Linked DNA regions of Homo sapiens: regions 1, 2, 3 and 4 are each linked to region 5. The links come from fine-mapping of genetic effects on gene expression. A gene starts in region 5. Each other region holds a variant in brackets. All regions are shown on one strand. Distances are between the middles of the regions. Region 1 has its middle 51 kb from the start of RHOU. Region 2 has its middle 130 kb from the start of LINC02815. Region 3 has its middle 30 kb from the start of RHOU. Region 4 holds the start of TMEM78 (transmembrane protein 78). Region 5 holds the start of RHOU (ras homolog family member U).

The links. PIP is the estimated chance that this variant, and not a neighbour inherited with it, causes the effect. A credible set is the group of variants that fine-mapping cannot tell apart.
Region 1: its variant is the best candidate, but not a certain one, in a credible set for the expression of RHOU in monocytes after LPS (Fairfax 2014, PIP 0.54).
Region 2: its variant is the best candidate, but not a certain one, in a credible set for the expression of RHOU in whole blood (TOPMed, PIP 0.83).
Region 3: its variant is the best candidate, but not a certain one, in a credible set for the expression of RHOU in whole blood (INTERVAL, PIP 0.69).
Region 4: its variant is the best candidate, but not a certain one, in a credible set for the expression of RHOU in whole blood (TOPMed, PIP 0.54).

The regions. Positions count from the first base shown.
Region 1 is chr1:228,783,350-228,789,233 of GRCh38, forward strand. No RefSeq gene overlaps it. Among named protein-coding and RNA genes, the nearest start is that of RHOU, 51 kb to the left of the region's middle. The variant C/A (reference allele first, on the strand shown) is at 3,166.
Region 2 is chr1:229,024,520-229,030,403 of GRCh38, forward strand. No RefSeq gene overlaps it. Among named protein-coding and RNA genes, the nearest start is that of LINC02815, 130 kb to the right of the region's middle. RefSeq lists an enhancer at 3,005-3,742. The variant C/T (reference allele first, on the strand shown) is at 3,372.
Region 3 is chr1:228,762,729-228,768,612 of GRCh38, forward strand. No RefSeq gene overlaps it. Among named protein-coding and RNA genes, the nearest start is that of RHOU, 30 kb to the left of the region's middle. The variant C/T (reference allele first, on the strand shown) is at 2,963.
Region 4 is chr1:229,247,599-229,253,482 of GRCh38, forward strand. TMEM78 (transmembrane protein 78) reads left to right here and starts at 2,038. Exons shown (of 1, transcript NR_172940.1): 1 at 2,038-4,212. All of the region lies in intron 1 of LOC102723935 (a long non-coding RNA gene), which reads right to left. It overlaps LOC124904540 (a long non-coding RNA gene), which reads left to right and starts at 5,752. Exons shown (of 2, transcript XR_007066924.1): 1 at 5,752-5,884. RefSeq lists an enhancer at 5,300-5,884. The variant T/A (reference allele first, on the strand shown) is at 2,892.
Region 5 is chr1:228,731,966-228,737,849 of GRCh38, forward strand. It overlaps RHOU (ras homolog family member U), which reads left to right and starts at 3,514. Exons shown (of 3, transcript NM_021205.6): 1 at 3,514-4,039; 2 at 5,708-5,766. The coding sequence starts at 3,778.

The DNA.
Region 1 (5,884 bases), 51 kb after region 5:
TCTGCTCCGTGTCCACAGAGCACAGGAAGCCAACAGCCAGGAGCAGCCTCTGGCATCAGAGGGAGTGGGTTCAAAGTCCAATTCTGCTACTTTCTAGCTGATAAACTGCTTAGCTCCCTGTCCATAAGTGGGCTTGATAGTAAGTGCTTATTACTTCCCAACGACGGGGAGATGCACACAAGCATCTAATGTGGTGGGTGGTACTAGATCGCCATGATTACCTCTGCAGCCACTTTTGGACGCTCGATGCAGCCACATTAGACACTGACCGAGGCCACTGCACACAGACCGGGTGCTGGGTATTGCGGGAACCAAGGAGCAAGCCAGCCAGTCCTGGGGCTCCGTCAGCATCTGGTCCACTGGAGAAGCAGATACATCTCTGGGCCTCATTATGGTCCATCTCTGCTTGGACTTTACATCCTCCACCACCTCACACTCAGCACATTCCAAGCTGAGGATGTTGTAACCTCCCCAAGCCCGCTTCCCCCAGGCTTCCTGCTGTGTCATCAATATCTTCACTTTCCTAGGAACCCAGGCTCCACATGTGGCCTCAGTAACCCCTCCTCTACTTCACACCTTCTGTACCATCGGGAGACCCCAGGGATTCAGCCTTTCATGGAGTGTCTCCCTGCCTGTCACAGTCCTCTTGCAACCCATCCTGCTGAAGATGTGATTTGTTTTAGCCTGGGGAAGAGCAGAGCTGCCTCCTGTGCCAGATAACCCTTGCTAACACATGGCTTTTAACATGCTCCTCACCTGCCCCAACCCAATGGTCCACAGAAAGTTGTGGCTATCTCTCCTCCCTCCAGTTCTGGCATGCTTTTCCTGCCTCATCCCTACTATTCCATGAATGAACCCCACATTTAAGGTAGGGTTTTCTCCCTTGCTGTATCCAAGTCAATCTAGACCTAGTGGCCCAGTTCTATTGACCAGCTGTCCCTGAATTTTCGAGGCCAATTCTTGCATTCTGTGACGAAACTGGTTGTAATCTCTCATACCCCGGGGCACCAGCCTCTACCTTTATGATCTTCTAGACTCTGGAATTCAGGAATGACTTAAGGCCACTTAAAACCACACCCTCCCTTGCCCTCACCTTCCATCTCCTCCCAGGGCACCATATGGCAATTGTTCTACATTCCCTCCAAGATTCCTCCTCCCAAGCCTAGGCCCATATGAATTTTCACTTAGCTCCAGAATCCCCCTTCAGCCATGTATCCCCCAACCAGGTAAGCACTCAGTGGCTCACTTCTGCTGAGTCCTGCGGCGTCGGCATCAACCCTGTTCCCCAGGCCTTCCTTGGTCATGCACCAACCTCCCATCTGAGGCACTCTGGTGCACAGCTCATATTTTGCATTCCCTTCCCTGTGGGCTAGGGCAGTGTTTCTCCCACTTTACAAACTCAGGCTCCCTTTTAATAAGCCTAAGGCCCTCCCCTGCTGCACCATGGAAATGAGCGATGTAGTCTGTACAGGTCTGTGTTGTAACCTCCTCTGCCTCCCTTGCAGGCACCCCTGTTGCTCCTTCCCAAGCCCCTGCTTCCCACCACACCAGTCAAGGCTGCACTCCCCTGGGGCTCTGTAGTTTTTTTTGTAGCATGTACCATAGTCGTGCTTAAATAATTATTGAACTACTTGTGATGAGTTGTTTAATGTGTCTGCTGCATCACAACATCAGCTTTGTGAAGTCAGGGGTTCAGTTTTGTTCGCCTTCGTATCCCCAGCACCTGGCCTACCTATTCCAAGCAAAATCCAGCTCCCTAAAAATACCCTCCTACAACCTGTCAATAAGCTGAAGTTATTCATTGCTTACTGTGGTCTGGGAGAGCCCTGCCCTGATAGTCTGAATAGCAGCATCTCAGATGGGGCATCCAAGTCGGGGTACTTATGAGGCTTTGGGGTTGGGTTTTAGAGGCTGTTCAGTGCAGCAGGGGAGGGGTTTATAGTATGAGGATTGGTGGATGCGGTAATGTGAGGGTTTTGAGGCAAGGGATTCAAAGAACCTTGAGGTATAAATAGTCACTGATGCTATCTATTGAAAAGTCTCATCGTTTAATGATCATTTGAATGAATTCTTCCAGAAAGTTCCTGAAACAAACAAAGTTATTTGCAGCTTTTATTTTCCTGGACAAGTGTTTCATGTAAGAGCAAAGTCACGTTAATGTAGACAGTAAGCTTCAAGGGTGCAGATGATTTGCGTTCTCAGAGTGAACAATTCCAGATGTTGCCCAATCTCCCAAACTCCTAGAACTGCATGTGTGAAGTTTCAGGATGGCCAACGCCTGCCAGGTCGTGCATTATTTCTGAGCAGCCCCAAGGAAGGCTTGCATTTGAGTGTGAACCTCTGCTTCTCGTGCCCCTTCTGTCCTGTCCTGTCCCATCCCATAAGAGGGCCCTTTCTCTCAGCTGCAGTGTAGACAGTACTCTGGTACTGACGTCCCTGAAATGCTACTAAGCCAGTAAGGAAAGCTGGGTGGGTGTGGAGATGGAGAGCACAACTTGGAGCTGAGTGTGTGGGGGATGTGGCTGCTCTGAGGCTTCCCCGTCAAGCGTCTCTGCCATGATGTAGCCACACCACGCATCACTGTTCAGCCTCCTCCTTAGCACCAGGGCCTACACTTTCTCGCAGCCTAGGCTGATATAATAATAACCTTAGACAAATTTAACAGAGTTTAACTGAGCAAAGAACGATTCACAAGTTGGGCAGCTGCTGAACCAGGAGGAGTTCACAGAGGCCCTGGCACTGCCCTGTGATCAAAGATTATTCATAGACAGAAAACGGAAAGTGATGTACAGAAAACAGAAGTGAGGTATAGGAACAGCCGGATTGGTTACAGCCTGGTGTTCGCCTTATTTGATCCTGGTTTGAACAGTTGGTTGCCTTTGATTGACCAAAACTCAGGGATTGGCATAAGAGTAGGCTACAGTTCATTTACATATCCAGTTTGGTTGCAGTTCATATGTACAGAGAAACCTTTAGGCCAAACCTAAAATATGTTGGGAGGTAGATTTAGGTGAAGCTTAACAAGGCCTCCCTATCTCACTCTCCCCATCACAAAAGCAAAACAAGAACTCCTGAGATCTTCAGATCGAGCAGAGCGATTTTGCTCCTTTTAGTCTTCTCTCATCTCTAATCTTCTGCAAAAACAAAATGTCCATTGACGTATTT[C/A]CCCAAAGAAAAAATAGTTCCCTCTCTAAAAGGAATTCTATTGTTATCTTAGACAGCAAACAATTCATTTTCCCCACCCCACCTGCATAAATAGAAATTCCATCAGTGGTTGAAAATATTAGGTTGAATCATATGAAATACTCATTTTGTCAGTCAGAAATAGTCAAATAGCAACAATCTCATATCCCCTAGAGTAAAAAATATGTAAAATACTAAGATAATGAATTAATTTGATTATTCTAGGGAATTGTATTCCTATGACTGAACCCAAAGAATTCTAGCAATAAGACTGAAAATAATTTTTTATTGCTGTCAGTAAAAACCATAAGGACAAGGAATAATTTCATTACCCAGAAAGATGGTGTAATAACTGAAACTAATTATGGAGGAAGCTGGTTATATTTCACCCACTGGCATCTCAGTGGGGAACTGTCTGTACTGGGAAATCAAACTGGAGTTGAAAACTGGTATCTGATTTCTACTTTAACCAGGGTTCATGGTGTCAGTTGGAAAGGCAGGCAGGGACTGAATCAAATTTGCAGATCCCCAGGTCAGAGGCAGAATGATAGCCTAACAGAGACAGAGGACTTCCTATGAGCCCCAGTCCTGGACGGTGTTCTAAGTGCCTTGCCGGTAGTATTTATACTCCCTGAGGAAACAGGCACTGAGCAATAAAATGATTTGCTTGGGGTCCCACAACAATAGACAGTGGAGCCTTCTAGCTGCAGGTCCCAGGCTCTTAGACACCATGCTCAACTGCTCTGTTCTTTCAGGGCACCCCACAAAGACACTTGCCCCGAAGGCCAGGGGGGAGAGGGGAATGGTAGTGAGAAAAAAAGGTATTCAGTATTAAGGAAAGAAATGATTTTCACAGTTACCTTTGAAATGGTAATTGGAAAATCTGACCAAGGATGTTGGTCAGATCAACACCCTTGCAGATGGAGCAGGCAGGAGGTTGCACTCTAGCAAGCATGGGGTAGGGTCAGCGAGTTCTTGATCATGCCATGAGAAACTGGCATGGCACTCAGCTGCCATCTGGGGTAGACATGCCCCACTCCTTGGGAACCCAGATCTAGACAACTGCCAACTTTTTCAGAGAATTATGCAGTCTCCTTTTTACGTAGGATGTGTTTTACTGTAATGTACATCCTATTTCCTCTTAGAGATGATCTGCCTGCTTCAGTCCCATTCTCCTCTTAGTATTCTTTTTCATTCTGGGATATGAATAAGAAATTGGATTTAGGCACCAAAGTTCTCACTTGTAGCCCTAATCCTACCAACTATTCCTGGTGCTAGCTTTGAAGCATTCTTTCGGAGCATCAACAGAGGCTCAAATTTCTCCAATCCTAAGTACAACAGCACAGAAATGTCCGCTGTTGCTACTGTTTTATTTGTGGTCTTACCTTCTCTACCAGCATTGAGAACAATGAATCTGTCCTTGCTCTCCCCTCTTCATCACCTCCAGCTCAAGACCCATCTACCCACAGTGCACTCAGTCACGACACTCAACCTTGCTTGTCCAACGTCACCAGTGAGCTCCCTTTGGCCAGTCCAGGGGACGCCTCTCAGTCCTCTCTTCCACATTTGGCCTTGTCATTCACTCCTCTACCCTGGCTTCTGACATGGCTTCCATCTCTGCTTCTACATTTCTGGCCATTTCTCCCTGGCCTTGAGTGTGGCATGAGCTCTCCTCACTGTACTGTCTCATGGGGCGGTGGTGCCCATTCTCAGTTTAAATTTCCATCTCGGATCTATCTTCTCTGAGTTTCATACTCACATTTCTAGCTGTGCCTCTTAAATGTCTCATAGACCTGTCAAATGCAACATGTTCAAAACCCAAGTCACCATTTTCCCAAGATCCGCTCCTCCTTCGATATTACCTGCCTCTGTCAAAGATGTCCCCAGACCATAAACTCAGGTCATCTAGAACCATTCCTTTTTTTTTTAATTCTCACATTCACTCTTCACCTCCTAAATATTTTCCAGTCCAATTCCATCCCTTTCTCCCACCCTCCTGCTCCTGCCATCTCTCTCCTGTCTAGGGTATTTAGCCTCTTGACTGATCTATCTCTTGTTTTACTCTGTTCAACTCCATTTTCCCAATAGTTATCTGAGTGATGATGGCTGTATCTTAAATAAAATCTGCCAAGTCACACCCTTGCTGAAGCCCTAATATTGTTCCCGAGCAAACTTTTTACTGTGACAGCCCTGCCTGGTGCCGACTTCCCTGCTCAGCTGCCCTCTGTCCTCTGTGCTCCGCTGTGCTGCAGGCAGTTACCGCCATTTCCACAGCGCTCTAATGGGGCCCGCTCTCATCCTTTTGCTCTGGACTTTGTGTCTTGGGCGCCATGTGTTCTCAGGCCCTCATTGTCAAGTCATCTCCCTGGTCTTTTAGGTTGTGTCCTGGAGTCTCCTTGTCCAGGGCAGATTCTCCACTGCTCCCCCATCCTTCATCCACTCTTCAGCCCCACTGCCCAGCACAGCCTGTCTCACAGCTCCTGTTGCTCAGTGGCCAAATGATCTATTTACGAGTGTGTCTTTTTCCGACTGGACTACAGATACCAGCCGGACAGGGGATCTTGTCCTATTTATCCTTGCATTCTCAGTACTTTGAGTATAGTTGACCCTTGAACAACATGCAGGTTATGGCGGCCGACCCTCAGCACAGTCCCAGTACAATTTTTGATTCCCCAGAATTTTCATGACTAATAGCCTACTG
Region 2 (5,884 bases), 290 kb after region 5:
TTGCCTCACCTCTAAAGTGAACGTAGAGTCTAGAACGTAAGCCAGTGCGTGCTGACGGTCCCCACACCGCACTGCCAGGGGCCTCGGGCTCTGCTCTAGCAGCTTGGCCTGGACCACGGAGCTCTTTGACCAGGACCTGCTCCACCTGAGGCTGATGCCCTCATGGTGCTGCCTGGCCCAGCCACGCCCATGATCCTTTTCCAGGGTCCCGGAGAAGGAGAAGAACTTCCTTTCTGGTCCTTCCCATTCTGCTCCTGGGTTCAACCAAGCAGCTTCTAGGCAGCTCTGATGACTCAGCAGCAGTGACTCACAGGTTCCCAGGACAGCAGATGAATCCTCTGCTTCTCTGGCTCCCTCTCCGTCCCCTGGCTCTTCCTGGCAATGTGCTTTCACTCAGCCTTGGGCCCACTTTCCCATCCCTCTGGGGACATACCCCCTCGCTTGTCCTGAGACCCACAGTTGAGACCCACACCTGGGCTCCAGCCTCTCTACTGTTCTTTTTACTTCCCAAGCTGGCCCATGGTCCCTTCAGGCTCAGCTCTCCAGGGATCTGCTACCCCGTTCCTGCCTCCGGGACCCACTCCACCCTCCTGGCACTGGCTGGGTCCTGGTGGAGGAGCTACCACAGGCAGCAGAGAAGCAGAATTCTGCTGAGAGCTGTGACCCGAGGACACTGGGCCCCACCAAGCCCACGGTGCAGACCCTGGACTGCTAGAGAGGATGGCAGCACCATCCCCTCCAGGAAGAGCCACCAGGCCTGGAGGAAAACCTGCGCCTCTGAGAGCCTCAAAGGAGCTGTGCCAGTCAGAAGGTGCCGCTCAATGGTCCTGGTCCTCTGGGGGTGACAGGGTCACACTGCGAGCCGGACTTTACACAGCACATCAGTGTGAAGGATGCCAGCATCCTTGTCTGTCATCTTCCTAATTATGAGCCTGCTCAACCCCTCCCCAGCCACCTAGCTCATGCAGGGCCTTCGCTTCTTTGGGCCTTTCCCTCCTTCATGCCATGAGAAGTAAAGGCCAAGAAGGGTCGCAGGACATAGGCCCTGGGGGCTAGGAGCAACCGCCAGTGTGGATGTGTGCATACTAAACCCAGGGCAGGGCAAAGAGAAACACTAGGACCCAGAAACATCTGTCTCAGAAGTGCTTTCATCCTGCTGGGATACACTAAGGTACAGGCAGGAAGAAAGCCCCATGCCTGAAGGGGAAGCTACTGAAGACACAGCAGGTGGCTGAGCAGTGCCACAGGTGACAGCTCACTGCTGGGCTTGTTCCTGCACTACCTTCCCTGGTTTGTCCCCTGGGATGCTGGGGAAAGAAATTATGTTGGGATTTTTTCTATAAATAATTTCCTGTCATTGTGTGTAATGATTGGCGAATAATTTCACAACAACTGGCTGTTTCTTTGTTGCATTCTAAACTTGAGCAGCACTGTGGATCATCAGCATTTTCTGTCTCCCCGCCATTTGAAAAGAACAGTTTCCTGGGACAATTCCTTGAGCCCAGGTCGAGGCTGCGGTGAGCTATGATCACGCCACTGCTCTCCAGCCTGGGTGACGAAGTGAGACTCCATCTCTAAAATATAAATAAATAAATAAATAGCAAAATGTTTCCCTTTCTCCATAAGAAAAATGCTTTTAAAAATTTCTCCTCAGATGCAAACATGTTAAACCCAAGTAAATGTCCCTTCACCTGGGTAGGCCTCAAAGGAAAAGTTTCAGCCACCTGAAATGCCAGTTAGCTGGTCAGCCTGTAAGACGCTTGTTTATTTGTAAAGAAATAGCCCATTCTGCGCAGTCTCAACAGTGGCCCTGGGAAACGGCAGCCCTGCTTTTATTTTTAAACCTCAAAGTTCATCTTAGAGATAAAGCTTTCTTTTCTCATGAGAGGCTGAGTGTCGTACATGGGTATGAAGGTGTAACATAGGCCTTAGACAATCATTTGTAACCTTAGAGGCAACAGGAACATTCAGAGCTGCCTGCCAGGCCCAGACACTCAAAGTGCTACAAAGTCGCCGATCTTTGTGCTTTGGGAGATCAAGTAGTTCCCTTCCCCAGGGCTATATTTCAACCAGGGTTGAGTTCATCTTTGTGCTTGTTTTTTCCCAAATAGCTCACTTTCTGATTTTTTTGGCTTAATAGTGAGATTATTTAAGAGGCACCAAAAGAAAAAGCTCAGTGAAAAAATTGTTTTAGCAATAGAATGAGTTAGTATGAATCCCAGTGCTCATCATAATATTGACTGTTATACACATAAAATACGAATGGCGAAAGAATAAGAGGGGTTCCTTTTTTCTTCTTCTTCTTCTCGAGATGGAGTCTTGCTCTGTCGCCCAGGCTGGAGTGCAATGGCACGATCTCAGCTCACTGCAACCTCCGCCTCCTGGATTCAAGTGATTCTCCTTCCTCAGCCTCCCGAGTAGCTGGGATTACAGGCGTGTGCCACCACACCCTGCTAATTTTTTGTATTTTTAGTAGAGACAGGGTTTCACCACATTGGCCAGGCTGGTCTCAAACTCCTGATCTCGTGATCCACCCACCTCGGCCTCCCAAAGTGCTGGGATTATAGGTGTGAGCCACTGCGCCTGGCCAAGACGGGTTCTTTAACAGTGGAAATAGAAACGTCATCTTCTGCAACGCTGAGCATCTGCAAAGCCCCCCACAGACAGTCTACTCAGGTGAGAACTGAATTTCCTCCCAGAACACTCTCTCCATTGTCATCCTTCCTTCCCCGATCCCAGGTGAATACATGTGGCACAGAGCCCCTCAAAGAGGCCTTCCATTCCCTTGTCCACTAATTTGATTTTCAGAATGTGGAGCCACGTGCCCCCTGGGGCCTGGCCTCTGCTCCCTGCTGCAGGTGCAGAAGCAAACAGACCATGGGGCCATGAAGTTTAACAGGCTGCCCAGGCCCGGGCACTCAGACCCTGCTGCTTCTCCCACCTCCCACCTCGCACCTCCCCACAGCCTTTTCTATCACACAGCCAAGGATTCCTGTTCCCCATCCTCTGTTGCTTATCATTTCTCCTGACCCACGCACAGAAGGGACTCTATTTCTAGGAGCATCAGAGAGAAGCTTTCAAACTTTTTTGCTCATGACCCACAGCAAAAAGTGCATTTTCTGTTGCAATTAAGTGCACATGCACACACAGCTGACTCACATCTAAGTCAAAAGTTTCAGGAAGCAATACTTCCTTTCACTACCTGCAAAGCCTTCTGTTACTTTCTGTTCTACTCTTCCCAGGCCGCACCACCCCCCACATTTCAACAATGCTCGTTGAAATCCACGAAACTGATTTCCCAATCCCCTAACGGTTTATGGTCAGCAATTTGGAAAACACTGGCTGAAATACTAATGAAAGGGCATCGCGGG[C/T]CTTCCCTGATGCGAGGGGAGGAAGGAAGGCTTTGCTCAGCTCTACGTTCCCACAGACCCACTTTTCCTGCCCTTTGCCCCACATCCCACCTGCCACTTGTGATTAAATAACAGTTTAACATCACCAAAGCTCCCTTTCACTCAAGAACTAACTCAATTAGGCTTGAGCTGGTGGGAGCTTAAAGCAGATTAAGGGAAGACAAAGGAGGCTTTGGGGTTTATCTTCAGCTTTCATGTTCCTAGGAGCTCTCTCTTCCTGTGCTGAGTCTTAAGCATCAAAGGGAGGGAGGCAGGGAAGGAGAGGAGAGGGGAGGGGAGGGGAGGGGAGGGGAGGGGAGGGGAGGGGAGGAGAGGAGAGGAGAGGAGAGGAGAGGAGAGGAGAGGAGAGGAGGATGGAAGGAAGGAAGGGGAGGGAGGAAGGAAGGAATGAAGGAAAGGATGAAAGGAAGGAAGGAGAGGAGAATGGAAGGGAGGAAGGGGAGGGAGGAAGAGAAGAAAGAGAAGAAAACTCTCCCAAGCCCCCATCATGGGCTGAGGCCAACCAGCACTGCACTGGTCACCCCCACTTTTATTTTTAAACTTCAAAGTGCATCTTGGAGATAAGGCTCTCTTTTCCCATGAGATGCTGAGGGCTGTGTTTGGGTGTGCAGGAATAACGTAGGCCTTAGACAATTACTTGTAACCTTAGAGGTACTGGGAGGGTTCCGGGCTGTGCTGGGCCCAGATACTCAAAGTGCTTCCTGAGGAAGATGTCCGTGGTTCAGCTCAGGGATGGGCACTGCTCCCCACGCTCCTCCAATGGGGCAGCTCCCTGCTCCGACCCCACCTCCCACCTCCCCCAGCAGCTCAGACAGCCATCTGTGCGGCAGATGAGCTGCACACAGAAGGTGCTCGGCAAACACTTGCCGAATCCCCTGAAATGGTCCATCTGGGCCCCTTTACAAATCGAATTCTTTCTAGATCAGTGGCGCCCAACAGAATTATAATGTGAGCCACACACGTCATCTTACATTTTCTAGTGGCTAACTAAGAAGTAATAATAATAAAAAGAAACAGGTGAAATTAACTTTAGCAATATACTTTGTATATAAAAATCATTATCATTCCAACATGTAATCGTATAAAATTTGTAAGATTTTTATAGTCTCTTTTTCTAGTACCAAGGGCTTGAAATTCAGTGTCAGTTTGGAATTGCCACATTTAGAGTGCTCAGTAGCCGCATGGGGCTTGCAGCTACCACCCTGAGCTGCAGCTCTGAACTCTAACCAGGACTCGGGGCAACTGGGGCCCAGGCTGGAGCTCAGCTCAGAAGGAAGGTGCTAGGTGGAGTCCTCCAGCCACAAGTCACAAAGCAGACTGTGTTGGGGGGCCTTTGCCACTGCACCCCCCTCCCCACCGTCCTCACTTGCCTTCCCCACCTGGCACTGTATCTGGTGGGAGGAGATGGGCAGGGCGTGGGAACAGAAGGAATGGATGAGGACTTAGAGATGTGTGAGCAGCTCTCACAGCCATACACTGCCCCTGCTGGGGAGTCCATGTGGACCCCTCAGCTGGGACTGACCCCATCACCTGTAGTGAGACACACCAAGAAACACGCCCCATCAACACAAAAATGTCTGCTAGGCCAAATCTGGCACAAGCTTAGTGACAGCTGAGTTAAATTACTGTATCCATGGTGCAGTCACCAAATACTTGCAGCCCTCAATCATTTTCAGCTGTCTTTTTGGGGACAACAGAGACATATACAGATTGTCAATTCAACATGAGCTCATTTTATTAGACGCAATCAGCCATATGGCACTTTGCGACCAGTAGACGTGCTCCTTTGACAATCAGTGTTATTGAGCCTGCTCAGTAATGAGTTAGCTACTGGTCTTGTCTTCCCTTAGAAGAATCCATTTAACTCCTATGAGTGAGTCAGCTTTTTCCTAAGTGACATCTTTGAGGGGAATGCAATGCCAGCTTGTCACATGCCAGGCTCTGGCGCTCAGTTCCAGAATGTTAGAGCTGGGAAGGTCTTGGTTCTCTCCTAGTCCTGTGGCTTTTGAGCTTTACTTTCTAAGTGCAAAACTTTCTTTCAAATGAAATCTTATGGGGAGGCCTGACTAAGACAGATTCTTCTGTAGGAGCTGGAAGGACAGCACAGAGCTCTCCCTCCCTTCCTCCTCCCCAGGCACCTCTGTGTGGTCAGGGTTTATTAGAAAACCAGCAACGCTAGGCAAGCCACTCATTGTACACATCTTAAAAGCAGGACCCAGAGCAGCTGTGTGTGATATAGTCACACTGTGCCATGACAGAGCCAGGGTTGGAATTCCACTCTCAGATTCTAAGACCTCTACTATTATTATTATTATTATTATTATTTGAGATGGGATCTTGCTATGTTGCCCAGACTAAAGTGCAGTGGCCCTTACAAAGATCTCTATTTTAGTATTTCCAGAGAGTTCCATGGAAGATCTTTGAAAGATACAAATGGTCCCACATGTAGAAACAGGTTATCATGAGGTTTGTTA
Region 3 (5,884 bases), 31 kb after region 5:
GAGTGTCTAAGAGACAGGTACTGCTATTACTCCTATTTTTGCTGAAGAAATGGAGGCATGCAGAGTATAGGTAACCTACTCCAGGGAGCACAAGCAGTAGAATCAGAACTAGAACTGGAATTGGCCTCCCGTGGCCAAGTCTTGCAAACTTGATACTCTATTTAGGAGGGCTTTGCTCTTTTATTTGCTTACACAAATTTTAGGTGCTTAACAACATCAGAAACTCCCTTCTGAAGACAGTTTTCTGTGTGCAGCTTAAGGACAGGTTGATGGAAAGAAAAATCAGAGTTATCAGATTCTCCTTTAATATTAGCTGATTAATAAAGACATTGTTTAGAAGAGTAAGTTTTAGATAATAGTAATATGTGGTTGTTTTAAAAAGCCACAGTTCATTTGTATTCTGTTGTCAGTTACAATGCCTTCTATTTCAGGAACAACTGACTTCTGATCTGTTCGCGGATTCAGTAAGACCCTTGTTGAGAATGTCATGGGTGTCAAGCCCTGCACTAGACACTAGATACGGTCATGAAAAGATGCAGAGTGCACAGTGCCCGCTCTCTGAGAAACTATGCTTCTCTCGTTGCATTTTGTGCAGACCTGGATTTTCTCTTTGCCCCTCCAGACCCCTACTGACCCTGCTGTGTGGCCTGGAAGACTAACTTCTTCCCCCTTCATCTTTTAGATTTCTGCTTTTCACAAGGTTTGGTCTGCAGCAGGAACTGGGGAGATGGAAAAGGTGGAGAGAGGTTGGGGGTTTCTTGCCTGCTCCTTCCCTAAGAGAAATCTGTTTCTCTTCTAGAGTCTCAGATCCTGCAAGCAGCCCCTCTTCACAGCCAGATCTCTGAGTTCTCATATTTGTCCCCTGCCTGCCACTTCCCAACAGGCTGACGGGTGATAAAGGCCTCCCTTGTTGCTGATTCCTGGGGCTTTACCATAGCTTGTCAGTCTCCTCAATCCTGTGCTGGTTTCTCTAGATAGTCTGTCAATTTAAGTCCGTTCAGTGACCCCTTTGAGTGCGTCATCTCTTTCCAGCTGGGATGCTGACTGATAGAAGCATTGTAATCCCTCCAAAGTTACTGCTTTGCAGATGGTCTATAAATTCTGATGAAAAAAGAAATTCAAACCAAAGACAAAAAACTGAAGCAATGAAATACACTTGGGAGAAAGTAAAACTATAATGACATGCATGCTGACTGTACCCCAAGGAGAAAACAGGCCAGCACTGCCAGTACAGTTGACCCCTAAACAATGTGGGGTTTGGAGACCAACACCCCCACGCAGTGGAAAATCCATGTATGACTGCCCCAAAACTTAACTACTAATAGCCTACTGTTGACCAGAAGCCTTACCAATTAACATATATTTTGTATGTTATATGTATTATATATGGTATTCTTACAATAAAGTAAGCCAGAGAAAAGAAAATATTATTAAGAAAATCAAAAGGAAGAGAAAATATATTTATTATTTATTAAGTGGAAGTGGATCATCATAAAGGTCTTCCTTTTCTTCGCCTTGATGTTGAGTAGGCTGAGGAGGAGGAGGAAGAAGAGGGATTGGTCTTGATGTCTCAGGGGTGGCAGAAGCAGAAGAGGTGATGGAGGTGGAAGGGGAGGCAGGAGAGGCCAGTGCAGTCTGTGTAATTCGTATAGAAAAAAATCTGTGTGTAAGTGGACCTATGCAGTTCAAACCCCTGTTGTTCAAAGATCAGCTGTATAGCGTATTCCCATTCCGCCTACCAGAGTCCATCCCAAAAGAACTTCTTGTGTATGAATTATCAATGCATCATGTACTTGTGTAACCATGCAAACAGCATCCACTGCTAAACTACACAGTACACATTTCTATACATATATTTTATATAAACATATACTCTATATACATTTCACATAATTAAGAGTTAGAAGAATTGATTAGGTTTAGTAAAGAGGAAAGGCACCACCCAGGGCAAATGACTGCTGCATTTGGTCAGAGATTTCTCAGAGGACCAAACACACTTCGAGCTGTCGAAAGAGATATAAAGAATAAAGAAGGATGTTATGGGAAGAAGCTTTTGTTTCTGTGTAAGGAAAAACTTTATAACAGTGTGAGGTCCCAAAATAATTTTGTGGATTAACTATATGTTGTTTGCTCATAAGAATCACTTGACTTTGGCTTTTGGTTATATAACCTATTTGGTTCTTTAAAGAAAATTTTATGAGCTTAATTATGTGGCAAAAACAGCTTAAAAAAAAAGATTTTCTGGGCAATCCCTAATAGCCCTCTTAATATAAGGCATGCCCGTTTTAGCCCCCTCATCTGCTGAAGGCTGGATTTAAAGGAGCCTTTTCTTTCTATCTCTCTCTCTCTCTTTTTTTTTTTTTTGAAACACTATCTTGCTTAGTCAACCAGGCTGGAGTGCAGTGGCACCATCATAGTTCAGTGCAGCCTTGACTTCTCGGGCTCAAGTGATCCTCCCACCTCAGTCTCCAGAGTAGCTGCCACTACAGGAGCCACCATGACCTGCTAATTTTTTGATTTTTTTGTAGAGACAGTATCCTGCTGTGTTGCCTAGGCTGGTCTCTAACTCCTGAGCTCATGATCTTCCTGCCTTAGCCTCCCAAAGTGCTGGGATTACAGATGTGAGCCACTACACCCAGCCTTATAGAGCCTTAATGGAAAATGACATCTTGCCAGAAAAATGTAGGCATTAGTAGTCTTTTGCAACTGATAAGTGTGTCCTATTAAACAAAAACATAGTTCATAATGTATTAATATATAAGTAAATCTGCCAGAACACCGGCTCATAGTGCTATGTAAGTGCCTACTAGTATTTTTATTGTTGTTGTTACTTTGCTTTGACAACATCTCATCACATTACAGTTTTAGTTCCAGTGGGTCCTGTGTCACTCTTCCAGAGTGCAAGGTGCTCCGCCTGGGGCCTCTTCACTTTCAGGGACAGTTTGTCTCAACTCTCACCACC[C/T]CCACCCCATGGGAAGTCACACCTGGTCTCTACTTCTACAGAGAGGAGCAGAGTCTTCAGGGCGTGGCTGGCCCAGCTTCCTGGTTTCTGCCCCTCAGTGAGGCCTTGTTTCCTCTCCTGCAGCGCCCAGCTTGGGTTCCACCTCGAAGGCTACAGCAAGGCACCGACAGCCACAAGCGGTCACACGCAGACCTTCTACAGAACCTCACTCCAAGACAGGAGATAGAGATGAGGCTGGGGGAAAATTACCATTAGTCTCCAAAGTAAAAGGAAAGTGGGACTTTCTGTCTGCCAATTATGGTAGATCATTCACGTGACCCAACAGCCAGTTACAAATACTGTCACCAGTAACCTTAAACTAGAACGGACCATTAACACTACTCATTAGTTGTTTAAACTTTATGTAATAATTAAGTTGAATGCTTCTAATTTTGCAGTTTTTATTTTCTCAAAATATTTTCAAGTCTTTGTAAGATTCTCCTTGCTTATCACCTTCACATAGTATGAGGCTTATTTTTATTTTTGGTTCACATCAAAATGCAACTAATATTAATTTGTTATTGCAGTTATAATTTTTATATACACAACTTATTGCAGTGGGAAAGACCTGAGAGATTCCTAAATAGAAGGAAACTCAGAAGTCATTTTCCCAAAAAAATTGTAGAAACATTGCCTTTTCAAAGATATTAATTTATATTTTTATCAGTTTAAAAAGCAAATTACGGGTGGTTCATGCCTGTAATCTTAGCATTTTGGGAGGCTGAGGCAGGAGGATCAGTTGAGCCCAGGAGTTCAAGTCCAGCCTGGGGAACATAGCAAGACCCTGTTTCTATAAAAAATTAAAAAAAAAAAAAAACTATCTGGGCATGGTGGCACACACCTGTAGTCCCAGCTATTTTGGGAGACTGAGGCAGAAGGATCACTTGAGTCCAGGAGGTCAAGGCTGCAGTGAGCCATGCACTCTAGCCTGGGCAACAGAGTGAGACTCTGTTTCTAAAAAAAAGAAAAAGAATTGCAAAATGCCATCTAACTGATCACTTTCGAGCTGCTGACTTTAACAAAGAAACTTGTCCCTTGTTTAAGTCTGATGAAAAAGTTAATCCATCAGCAAAAAACCCTTCAGGAGTAAAAATATAATATCAATTTATTTGGGTTCAATTCAACCAATATTTGTTTATCATTTATTATGTACCAGGTACATTTCAAGGCACTGTAAATTTGGAGATGACTAAGGTGGCCCTGACCTCAGAAGCTCACAATTTCTCCCTGTGACAGGAAGCTAGACGAGGCACTCTAGTACAATGCTTGGATCTGCACTGGAACCTGGGGCATGGGGCCCTGAGAGAGTGCCACAGAGGCTGTTGGCTTCTTCTGAAGGGAGCTTGGGCTTATTCGGTCCCATGTCTGTCCCCTGTGAGAGACTAGATACTGCTTGAGGACGAGGGCCAAGTCTTTACTGCTCTTTATTCCTGCTGAAAGTTCAGGGATCAATTTATCTTTTTTATATAAAAGAAAGAGAAAAAGGGGGAGAGAGAGAGAAGGAGAAAGAGAAGAAGGATAAGGAGGAGAAGGAGAAAAGGAAGGAAGGAAGATGTTTTGGGCTGAATTGTGCACCCTCAAAATTCATACATTGAAGTCCTAACCACCAGTACCTCAGAGTATGACTCTATTTGGAAACAGGATTTTTAAAGAGGTAATTAAGGTAAAATGAGGTCATATGGGTAGCTCCTGATCTAGTAGGACTGGTAAGAAGGGGAGATTAGGACACAGACACACATGGAGGGAAGACCATGTAAGGACACAGGAGAAGGTGACCATCTGCAAACCAAGGAGGGAGGTCTCAGAAAAAAACCAAACCTGCCAACGCCTTGATCTCACACTTCTAGCCTCGAGGACTGTGAGGAATACATTTTTGTTGTTTAAGCCACCAAGTCAGTGGTGTTTATTATGGCAGCCCTGTCAAACTAATACAGAAAGAAGGAACATAAGAGGTCTTTCTTGAGTCAAACATTAAAGAATGAATGTGATTTTTTCTAAATTGAAAAAGGAAGAAGGAATGATTAATTTTGCCTGGAATAGGACAAGTCAGTAAAGATTTCATAGAGGAGATGACATTTGAGCCGGATCTTGAAGAGGTGCCAGAACTTGCCACTTGGAGAAGGAGACAAGAGGTTAAGGCAGAACAGGAAGAGTAACTCTATTACAAAGAATCGCAAGTACGTGGAAAACAGATCTAACAGGGATATCTGACGTGTGGAATTGAGGTGAAAGACTCATGGGAAATAAGACTGGACAGATAGATGAGGAAGGACCAGACTATGGAAGACCAGTGGTAGAACAAGAAGGTAGTTTACATAGAAAAAAGAACTGATCTGGTCTTCAGTTTAGAAACAGATACCTGGAGGAGAAGAGAAGGGTGAAGAGAGAGCAGGAGATTAGTCAGGATCTGTCACCGTGGTGTAGACAGAAGGGGAGGAGGCTCTGAGCTCGAGAGAGGGGGGCATGGGAATGAAAAGGTGAGTGCCAATGTCACATTGTGGGTGGAATCTCTAGAAATGATTGACCACAGCAGAAGCTGTGCTCAACAATCACACTAAGATTTTAAGCCAGGAAAGGGAAGATAACTGCACCAGGGGCAGAAATACAAAGTCAGGAGGAGGCACTGGCTATGATTGAGGGGAGATGATTTTATTTTAGATTTGAAGTGTGATAAAACTAATGTGTGTTGCAGTGATTAGGAGAGATCTGGAAGGAGAAGCTGCACTCTGGAAGAGGGTTTAGTGCCATCTGGACCCCAGTCTGTGGAGGCCACGTCATATCAGAGCAGACCTCCCACGTATGGCTGTGTTCCAGCGTTAGTCGTAAACCATTAATAGACACACTGTCCCTTTCATGGCCCCCACCCTCCTGACTACTGCCCTT
Region 4 (5,884 bases), 520 kb after region 5:
GCCAAAATCACACCACTGCACTCCAGCCTGGGTGACAGAGTGAGACCCTGTCTCAAGAAAAAAAAAAAAAAAGACAAATCTATTGCTAGTAGCAAAAAGAAAATTTTTTTTGAAATATCTTAAATGTCCAATAATAGTAGATTAAATGTTTTGATATGTTCAAATAGAATACTATGTCATGATTTAAAATATCTTTATGGAAAAAATATTAGCATGGAAAAACATTCACCATAAAGTGTTCATGTGAAAGAAGTAGATTATGAAACAATACATACACTATATCCCAATAATGTGTGTGTGTGTGTGTGTGTGTGTGTGTGTGTAGAAGGCTAAAAAGCATATATTTCTGTTTTAGTCTGTGCTGCTGTAACAAAATATCACAGACTGGGTAATTTATCAACAATAGAAGTGTATTTGTCACAGTTGTGGAGACTGGGAAGCCCAAGATCAAGGCACCAGCATGTCTGATGTCTGCTGAGGGCTGCTCTCTGCTTCTGTGATGGCACCCTGTTGCTGAGGGAGAAGACAAACCCTGAGTCTTCACTTGGTGGAAGAGAAGAAGGGGCTGAACTGGCTCCCTCAAGTCCTTTTATGAGGCATTAATCCAATCATGCGAGCAGAGTCCTCACGGTCTAATCACCTCCTAAAGACCTCACCTCTTTCTTAATACTGTTACATTGGGGATTATCTTTCAACTCGAATTTTGGTTTTGTTTGTTTGTTTGTGACAGAGTCTCGTTCTGTCACCCAGGCTGGAGTGCAGTGGTGCAATCTCAGCTCACTGCAACCTCCGCCTCCCAGGTTCAAACGATTCTTGTGCCTCAGCCTCCTGAGTAGCTGGGATTACAGGCATGCACCGCCACGCCTGGCTAATTTTTTGTATTTTTAGTAGAGTTGGGGTTTCACCATGTTGGCCAGGCTGGTCTAGAACTCCTGAGCTCAGGCAATCCACCTGCCTCAGCCTCACAAAGTGCTGGGATTACAGGGGTGAGCCACCGCGCCCGGCCTCAGCATGAATTTTGGAAAAGACACAAACATTCAAGCCAAAGCAATATCCTTATGTTAATTCCAGTTATCTCTGACCATGGAATAATGGATAACTATAATTTTATTCTTTGTGCTTCTCTGTACAATCCAATTTCTCTCTACAATAAATATGTATTGCTTTCAGAATCAATGAAAATAAGTTGCATTTAAGAAAAAATTTTTCTCTTCTTCCCAGTTTGAAATACATTTTCTTTAAATTCAAGTCTACTGCCACATTAGGCAGGTTTTGTTTCTTTTTTGTTTGTTTAAATGAAACAAGTAACTGTTCAGCAAGTGGCTAAGAATAACCTCTCCAGGCAGTGGTAAGAAGTAGGAAGTAGGGAAAGAGAGAAAAGAGCTACTCAGGGTCAAAAGAGGCACCGACAGGGTTGGGGGTGGAGTTCAGAATGCCAGGTTAGCTGCCAAGGTACAGAGAGAGAAAGACAGAAACAGAGAGAAAAGGAGGGAGAGAGAGAGACAGAGCAGAGAGGGAGGGAGAGAAGAGAGCACACGTGTGTGCTTTGACCAGCAGGCCAGGATGGGGCTGTTTTCCTCTCCTGTGTCTGCCCCCACCTTGCAGGATCATTTGGAGTCATTGCAGGGCTAGCTTAGCTCTGCCTGAGTCACCCCCAACAGGTAAACTTCTACCAGCAGAGTCTCTCCTTTCGGTTAAAGAGTTGCTTATAGATCTCGTGGTTTTTCAGTTAACATCCTCAGGATCCCCACTTCAGCTCCCACCTTCTTTCCCAGGTCTGGCCTCCCTAGTCCCAGTTTTGGCTCCATCATCCTATTTCCTTCACTCCTTTCCTCCAGCTTCTTCCCAGCTTCTTCCCTTCGTGCATCTGCACCTCAGCTTCCCAGTGCTCTGTGTTCACTTTGCTCATCGCTCGGGCTTCAGCATCTCCCACTATGTTGGTTGATAATTCCCCACCAGAGAGCCACACACCCCTGAGGAAGAAGGGAGAAGCCAGAGGTTTCTGGAAAATCCAGGAGGCGGAGCAGGCTGGAATGGAAGGTAGAGACAACCATGAAAGTTGAACACGTCATCTGTGCAGGACCGTTCATACTGACATGTGGCTTGACACCAGAAATCTGGGTATTGTAATATCATGTTGGAAAGGAGTTTGTGTGCCTCAAACAACTACTCTAGAGATGTTTTACAATGACAATGATAGAGTAGAGGAATCTTCTAATTCCTACCAAATCAGAAGGGAATTCCTCCTTCCTGCCTGCCTGCCTGCCTTCCTTTCTTTCTCTACTTCCTTTTCTTTCTTTCTTTCCTTCCTTCCTCTCTCTCTTTCTCTCTTTCTTCCTTTCTTTCCTTCTTTCTTTCTTTCTCTCTCTCTCTCCCCTTCCTTCCTTCCTTCCTTCCTGAGACAAGGTCTTGCTCTGTCTCCCAGGCTAGAATGCGATGGTGCAATCATGATTCACTGCAGCCTCAACATCCCAGGCTCAAGTGATCCTCCCACCTCAGCCTCCTGAGTAGCTGGGACTACAGGGGCTTGCCACCACGCCCAGCTAATTTGCGTGTGTGTGTGTGTGTGTGTGTGTATGTGGTAGAGATGGGGTCTCACTATGTTGCCCAGCTGGTCTCAAACTCCTGGTCATAAGCAATCCTCCACCTCGGCCTCCCAAAGTGTTGGGATTACACGTGTGAGCCACCATGCCCAGTCTCTATTTCTTAATAGTGTCAGCAACTGAAAGATATAGAAAAGGAAGTCTGTTTGGTGTGTCTGTTGCCTCCCCAAAATCTTCAGCCTTTGTAGGACAGTGCATCCCACTGGGCAAAACCAGAGAATATTCTTTTGTGAGCCCGTAAGTAATTGTCTGCAATAGACATGCAGGGGCCTCTACTGTCATCTCTTA[T/A]GCAACTGAACTTCCTAAAAACTGTGGTGTTTATCTCTTCTGTTGCTCAGCACTGCTGGGACTGGGACTGCAAAAAACAAAAAAGCACCCAGGTTTACTGCCCTTAAAAAACTGACTGCTAGAGGAGATGAGCATATACATGACAGGATGTGATAAGATATTAAGCAGAATGTGATCAGAATCATAGGAAGTATATACAAAAGATGGGAACACTAATAGAGGTGACTACAACCACCTGCTTTGTAGAGGAGATGACATTCAAGCTGAGTTTTAAAGGATGAGTAGGAGTTGGCCAGAAATGGAGAGGGAGAATAAACCATGGGGAAGTAGTACACAGGCATGGCATGTTTAGAGCATTTTTGGAGCAGGGTAACCAGAATATACTGGAGGTTGCTAGTAGAGGAGATTGGAAAAGAAAGGGTCAGATTATTAATGGATTTACGTATTATGCAAAGAAGTTTATATTTGACCCTTTTTTTGACAATCTGGCATTTAGCCTTATCATAAAATAAAGATCTCTCAATGCTTCACATAGAAACTTCATCTGATCTCTTGAGGATCAAAAAATGGCTTTCTGGGTTTTTTTTCTTTCTCTCTCTCTTTTGTTTTTAATATCTCACATATACTTTAACCACCATAAATTCAAGTTTTCTCTTACTCAGACATGAGTTGCTTAACAATGGAATAATTCATTTCTTTATTTCTCAACATTGCCCTTTTGAAGGTTTTAGGTTTTAGGTTTTCTAAAACTCTGAATACTTTTGGCTATCATTATCCAGGGAAAGCCTGAAGACACTCCAAAGCACAAGGACAAAAGAGACCTTGTTAGATCTAATTAAGCGCTCCAGCACCAGGGGCACGGGGAGCAAGAGAAAAATACAGAGTCAGAAACTGAGCCGAGTTCTATGGTGGTACAGAGTGAGGCCTGCTTCACTGTGGGCTGGGGCTGGGGCAGGGAGGCCTTCATCTTGCTCTAAGCTGTGCAAAGTACCTCCCACGAGGCTAAGTATAGAGCTACTCAATAAAAATTATGCAATGTGGCTGGGCACGGTGGCTCACATCTGTAGTCCTAGCACTTTGGGAGGCTGAGGCAGGTGGATTGCCTGAGCTCAGGAGTTCGAGACCAGCTTGGGCAACACGGTGAAACCTCGTCTCTACTAAAATACAAAAAATTAGCTGTGCATGGCAGCATGTGCTTATAATCCCAGCTACTGGGGAGGCTGAGGCAGGAGAATCGCTTGAACCTGGGAGGCGGACGTTGCAGTGGGGCAAGATGGCGCCATTGCACTCCAGCCTGGGTGACAACGCGAGACTCCATCTCAAAAAAAAAAAATGCAATGCTTAATAAACTCTCTCTTATCCTGATCCTCCTTCCTCTCCTCCTCCTCCTCCCACCACCACGTCTCTCCTCATTCCAGGTGGCTTTAAATATCAACTGTATAATAAAGCCTCCAACGTGTATTTCCCCAACCTTGACCTCTCTTGACTCATACATCCATCTGCCAACTCAACATCCCTCTGTGATAGTTAACAAGCAGCTTATGCTCTACAAATCTTGATTTCTGCATCCTTCACGTGGCAGACGACATTGACCAAAGATGGGCACAATACCTCCTATCCCACATGTTCTTCTACAATGTGACATCGACACCCTCCCATCCAGGGCCAGGGTCCGTGTCTCCTTCCTTTGAACTCGGACCAATCTTCGTGACTCCTTCAAGCAATAAAGGACAGCAGAAATGAGACTATGGGAGTTCTGAGGCAAAGGCATGAAAATGTCACCTGCTTCATATCTTGTTTTCTTGGGAGGCCACTTTTGGAGCCCAGCCGCCATGCCATGAGGGAGTGAACCCCAACACGAGGAGGTGCAGGAGTTCTGGCTGACATCGCAGCTGACGGCCCAGCTGACAGCCAGCATCCACAGCCAGACGTGTGAGTAACAAGCCTCAGATGGCTCCAGCCAACCTTTGAGCTGCCCTAACTAATCTCACCTGCAGCCGTCCCCATCGAACCCTGCCCAGGCTGCAACTGGTGAGCAAATCAAATGATTGCTGATGTTTCATGCCACTAAGTGCAGGATGGTTGGTTTGTTTGTCACTCAGCAGTAGATAACTGAAACGCATCTGCCGAAAACCTTCTCTGATTATAGAGCCATTATCTACTCCACTGCTCAGGAAAAACCCCACTCTTCATCTCCCAGCAAATCCAGTGGATTCTGCCTTCAATTATATCCAGAATCCAGCCATTTCCTGTCACCTCCCTCCCCATCCCCCGCAAGCCTCTATCATCTTTCAGGATGGGCAACAGCCCCTAATGGCTCCCCACGTCTGGACTTTGTCCCTTACAGCCTAGTCTCCATGAGTCTTTAGCATCCTAGTGCCTCTTGTTAGTAACTGTCTTGTGCCCTATCCCTTAATCGCATCAGGTCTCACTCAGAATTTAAAAATAGAAAAATGCTTTCAGTGGCCTACAAGACCCCATATTCTGCCCTACACAGCCTGGTTCACTCCCCATTCCATTGATCTCCCTGCCCCGGCTGCTGTCCCTGCAGGCCCCATCAGTATGCTCCCATCTCAGGGTCTTTGTCTTCTGGAGGGCTCTTCCCCCAGATACCACAACCTTTGCTCCCTCCCTTCCCCTTCGGTCTGGGTACAAATGTCTCCTTATGGAAGAATCCTGCAGGCACCCTACTGAAAGCAGAACTATGGCTTCCCCCGCCCTCTCGCCCTCCAGGCAGGCCCAACCCCCCTCACCATTCGTTTTTTTCACTTACTTATCACCGCTGATGTGCTATATATTTACTTATTTGCCACATCTGTCTCCTCCCACATGCAAGTATTGCTCCATGAGGTCAGGAACTCTGCTTTCTTTACTGCTGCATCCCCGGGAACCCTAACAGCACCTGGAATTAATGAGCATGCAATGTGTACTTGCCGAGCAGATGTGAATGAATTACTTTGAAACTGACGCCAAAGGGCACCATCAACACAGAG
Region 5 (5,884 bases):
ACTGAGCAAAGACATGGTTTTCTATTAATAGCTGCAAGAAGTGGTCAAATTTCCTTCATTCATTCTAAAAATATTTTATAAAAGCATAAAAATACAACTGTCCATGTTTTGAGAGTCCATGTTTTACATTCTTCTCCTTTTCTTTCTTTCTTTTTTGCAGAACCGTCAAGTTCAAAACATGTTTTCCTTTCACTTACGTATTTACCACTGCTTAAGTATTTATTAAGCACCTACTACTTGCCCCACGTGCTTCTAAGTGTGGGATATAGGAATGAGCAACATTAAGTTTCTGATTTCATGGAGCTTGTAAGAGGAGACAGACAATAAGCAAATAAACAAACAAATATATCATACAACTTGAACCCACACACCTTGGAGGGCTTCTTGTAGCATTAGTTCCAAGCATTTTAGATAAGGCTGTAGGGGACTGATTAAGTCGAGCCCAGAAACATGGACCCAAATGAGTGGGTGCGGGACAGTTCAACGTAAAAAGGGGTAAAGTAAAGGCATTCTGTAAAGGGGTAAAGTGGTAGGCATTCTGTCATCTCTCTGCTTTTGGACTTGGATGAAATACCGAACTGTTTGGCGTGGGGTCTGATTTCCTATGTTGCCTACAGAAGAGTCTCATGAATAGGGCAAACATTAGTTCCCGGCATTTTAGATAAGGATGCAGGGAGCTGACTAAGTTGTGTCCAGAAAAACGGGCCCAAATGAGTGGGCGTGGGATGATATTCAGCATGAGAAGGGGAAAAGCAAGAGGGGGACGCACAGGACACAAAAACTGACAGCTGGCCAGATGGAGGGGCAAAGCCAAGTTTTGTAGGGCCTGAGGCTTATCACATTTGTGAGACTTCATTAAGAAAAAAAAATACAAAATTAAGAATAGAAAATTAGATACAAAAACAAATGTTTAAAGTGAGAAATGCATCACAATAAGTTACAAATTTTAAAAGGCTAACAAACACCATAAACTTAAACAAAATACATAAGACATGACATTTTAATAAACTGCTTGACACACTTCTATGACATTATTTTCATTTTTCAGTTGCATACCCTTTGATCACTTCTTCAGTTTTGTAAGATATTTTCTATAAGAACAATAGGAAGTTACTTCACACACAGGTGAACTTGCTTTTTGTTGTACTACTACAGCCTCATGTCCTTACAAACATGGGAATTCAGATCATTCATTTCATGTGATTTTTCTCCAAAAATGTATGATGCATTTGTAAGTGTATCTGCTGCATTTAGAGTACAGGTACATTTCTGACAGCAGACAACTTCTGTTTTGATCAGGTTTAGTAGAGAGAACCAAACCTTCTCTAACAATGTTGTGTTTTCTTCTGTTTGTTTCTTTTTGAGACAGTGTCTCACTCTCGCCCAGGCTAGAGTATATTGGTTGATCAAGGGCTCACTGGAGCCTCGACTTCCCAGGCTCAAGTGATCCTCCTACCTCAGCCTCTGGAGTATTTGGATTACAGGTGTGAGTCACCACACCTGGCTAATTTTTTTATTTTTGGTAGAGACAGGGTTTCGCCATGTTGGCCAAGCTGGTCTCGAACTCGTGGCCTCAACCGGTCTGACTGCTTCAGCCCCCCAAAGTGTTGGGATTACAGGCGTGAGCCACCGCACCAGCCGATATTAGGTGCTTTATGATGGAAAGAATTGCCAGACTAGCTTCCAGCTCTGCCCATCTCAAGCTCTGCTACTCTTGCTACTGGAACCCTTCTAGTGTTGGGGAAAGTAAGACAGTTAAGGGCACCAATGTGACTCTCACAGAGGGTCATAGGTATGTCAGTGGTAGCCATTCCTATACCTGGATGGCTAGCAACAACATATCTACATAGGAGAACTGTAAACCACATAAATATATCCTGTCATCACAGCCAGGGCGAGGGAGAGGCAAGTCAGGTACCTGAGGCTCAAAACTTAACATTGGCACTTGCCTGACCCTGAGAGTAAGGGCCCTCTAAATTTGTTGTTTTTTGATATTGCCTCTGAATGCTCAATTTGTCATAAATTTTGCATCCTTGACATCCCCCTTATCTCACCTTCATCCTGATTCTGTATCCCATTACACCCAAACAACCTGTTTGGGTCTCCCCAACTTCACTTTCTTTGGCTGATCCCCAAAATCTTCATGGCCTCTTCAAAGTCACTCAATATGAGGGTAAGTTACAGTTTAAAAAGACAGTGAACATAACTGGTGGTGATTAAAATACTTTTTTTTTTTTCAAAATTTACAGAAACATATTACCACGTGTACACATTGCTAGGTCTTCCAATGTGAAAGTGTCCTTTGCAAGTCAGGGGTCCTGGATTCAAGCTTCTAACTTCTTGATAAATCCATCTCTGCATTCTGACCATGGCCATACGTTCAAGATTACGTTTATCATACTGACTTATTTTTGCCTCCAGGATTTTGGTTAGAAGCTCAGGCTCTGGGGCTAGACTATTTGGGTTTGGATCCTGGCATTGCCACTTACTAGCTTGTGGAATCCCAAAACGTTACTTAATATCTCTGTGCCTCAGGTGTTCTCATCTGTAAGTAATGTTAAGATTAAAAGAATTAGTTCTTGAAGAGTGCTTACAACAGTATCTGACACATTATGAAAGTTCAGTATTTGTTATTGTTATTTTTACTACCACTAGTATCAATGTGTATTAATAATATGTGGCCCTTCTCACACCACGCTGTACACCCCCAGGACTCTTGGTATTCTGACTTGGCTAAGAGGCGTCCTTTTTCTGAATAGACTGTTGACCACATGTAGAAGGAAGGCAGAGAGAGAAATGAATCAAAGGGAAACGGAATATTTTTTCAGACATATTAATGTCTCCGAATTACCTTTAAGTAAATGAAGGAATTGGGGGTATAAAAAAATTTCTGGAGCATACATGTATAAAGGTTCACGGCATGCCGAAAGACAAAGTCAAAGGAGCATTCACAATGGAGCTGGCATCCTTTTGCTTCAAAATGAGAAAAAATCACACGATCAGCTGCAGTTAGACTTAAGGAAAAAAGCTGTCTGTTAATTCAATCTCATTCGCAGGACAGGCCTCCAGGACACTTCATTTTTCCCCCTGGGTGGAGCCGTGGCCAGCCGGGGGCTCCACGGAGTGAATAGGAGGCGGCTCAGGCTTCCTGGCTCGCGTGGGCGCCAGAAAGCGGAACCTCCCGGGCCAGTCGCGCGGTGGTCACCCTCTTGGGAGCTGGGGAGGAGGCTGCGGAGGCTGGCCCGGCTCCTTCGGGCGTCGCTTCCCGGACCGGGTGCGCGGGGTCCCCCGGAACGTGTGTTCCAGGTCCTCCCGCGCCAGTGTTCGCAGTCCCCGCCTGGTCGCGGCGGCGCCTCGGGCGCGGGTGCAGGCGCGCGGCGCGCAGGCGGGGGGCGCTGTGGTCTTGGCGCGGGGACCGAGCCGCTCGGCCAGACCCGCCTCTTTTCCCTCCCCGCCAGCCCGCCCGCCTGCCCGCCCCCCACGCGTCGTGTCGCCGGGAAGCCGGGCGGAGACAGAGCGCTTGGGATCCACGGCGCTCGGACCGCTGTCCTCCAACAGCGCAGGGCAGAGCGGCTGGCGCCGCCGGAGCGCGGAGCCACGACCCTCCCTGGCCGCCTTTGTCTACTGGCCGTGCGGCCCGGAACCGCCACTCTCCAGGGCCGGGGACGCGCCCGCAGCTGTCGGTGACAGCTCCTCCCTACCGCAACCCTCCGGGGCGGAGGGGCGGTCGGGCCGGGCCCTGCTAGCCCGCGACCGCAAGCCCGCGCTCGCGGATCGATGCCCCCGCAGCAGGGGGACCCCGCGTTCCCCGACCGCTGCGAGGCGCCTCCGGTGCCGCCGCGTCGGGAGCGCGGTGGACGCGGGGGACGCGGGCCTGGGGAGCCGGGGGGCCGGGGGCGTGCGGGGGGTGCCGAGGGGCGCGGCGTCAAGTGCGTGCTGGTCGGCGACGGCGCGGTGGGCAAGACGAGCCTGGTGGTGAGCTACACCACCAACGGCTACCCCACCGAGTACATCCCTACTGCCTTCGACAACTTCTCCGGTGAGCTGGCCGGGGGGCCGGGGCCGGGGGCGCGTGGCCGCGGTCCACCCAGGGGAAGGAAGGTGGCGCGAGGGTCGCGAGGTTCCCAAGGGGGCTGCAGGGCCCCGGGCGCGGCTCCAGCTGGGAAGCCGGACAAATGAGGAGTGCAGGACGTTTCCTGAGTCTCAGGGACCGGGCAAGCGCGGAGCTAACACGAAAGGACCACGGCGGAGTGGGCTTGGAGAGAGGAGGGCGGAGCGGCAGTCAGAGCCTTGCCAAAAAAAAAAAAAAAAAAAATCTCACAATTTAAGCAACAGATAAGTAGGAGTGAAACAGGTTGAGTTCAGGGTGCCCGGTCAGTTTGTTGCATAGAGCAAAGTTTCCTGAGGGCGACGTCGCTGGCGCCGCTGCAGAGTTTCAATCAGAAGGTGACGCGCAGGTGCCTTTACCTGAGCGTCGCTCCTTTGCTTTTAGGCGGCTCAGCTCACAAGGGGCGTCTCCGCTTTAAAGAGCCGCGGAGACGCCGGGAAAACACTTGATTTAGTGAAAAAGCGCGAGCGGCCCTCGTGAAGGCTTAGGTTTGGATGAAACCTGAAGAGTAAACACCATTTCTTTCTTCTGAGCCCCACCACCTTCCCTGCCCACATGGGCTCGGATTCTGATTGTTGGTATCTTTTCAGGATCCCTTTAAGCTACTTAAAGCTCCTATGTACCGGGTGCGATGCCATTTCCCTTGGTAGATACAAAGAGAAAGGAATTCTCTATCTTGCTATTCAGGTCTTTTTGAAATTTAAGAAAAAGTTAAAATTCACAGAAACTAGTATGAAACACTTAACTGTCTTGCTTCTTTAAAAAAAAATTGCTTCTCTGACCTTCCTTTCATCCCAAAGGTACCTTAGAGAAATGGGTGCTGTACTGGTGGGTTCCCACCGCAGGGTATTGTTTCTTCCCCTCCCCCCACCCCACCCCTGCAGCTGACTAGTATAAATATTTAGAAACAATTAGAAAGTTGTGTAGAAAGAGACAAAACTGACTGCTTAATTAAAATAGAAACCTCCACAACATGTCCTGCTGCAGGCCTCTCCACACTCCCCGAGTCCCCGGATCCCAGTGGAAAGGGGGCCATGGCTTTCTTTTTTCTTTTTTAATCCTCCTTTTGACCTGACATAGAGATAAGGAGTGCCCTCATTTCTTAAACAGGACAATGCGGGCAGCCTGTGTTTGCACATGTTCTCAAAACACACTAGAATTGTATGATAAACCCTGAAGTTGGGGAACCTTTCCCAAGGGAAAACAGAATTATTTGTGAGGTTTTCCACTGATTTAAAACTGCAGGGTTGCTTCCCATTTACCCCCAGTGTTGTTTTTAGGTCCTTTGAAACAAGTGTGACAGGAAAATAAATCTTCCAGGACTGGGAGAAAAGCATAGGCCTTTTTAGGGTCACCATCAAAGCGTTCAGGGATTTGCTGCCTGGTTCACGGTAATGGAGTGACTTGCCAGCCGTGGGTTTGTATACAAAAATGCCTCCACAGGGCCTCCTTGTTTTTGGCTAGTCTTTAATTCATTAGAGGACCTAAAATAGGAGCAAAGGGGTTTGGAGTGAGAATGATAGTGAAAGCTAAAACTATTAGTATTCCGAAAGGGGTTAAAAGACACCTCCTGATTGTCATTTTGGTTTTGTTTTTAAGCGGTGGTGTCTGTGGATGGGCGGCCCGTGAGACTCCAACTCTGTGACACTGCCGGACAGGTCAGTATCACGTTACAGCTCAGTGCTGGGAAAGGAAACAGCCTTTTAAAGATTTCCAAATAACCTTTGATTCCCTCAGTCAGTAACTGGGTCATTCTAAAGCCTCATGAAGTGGACC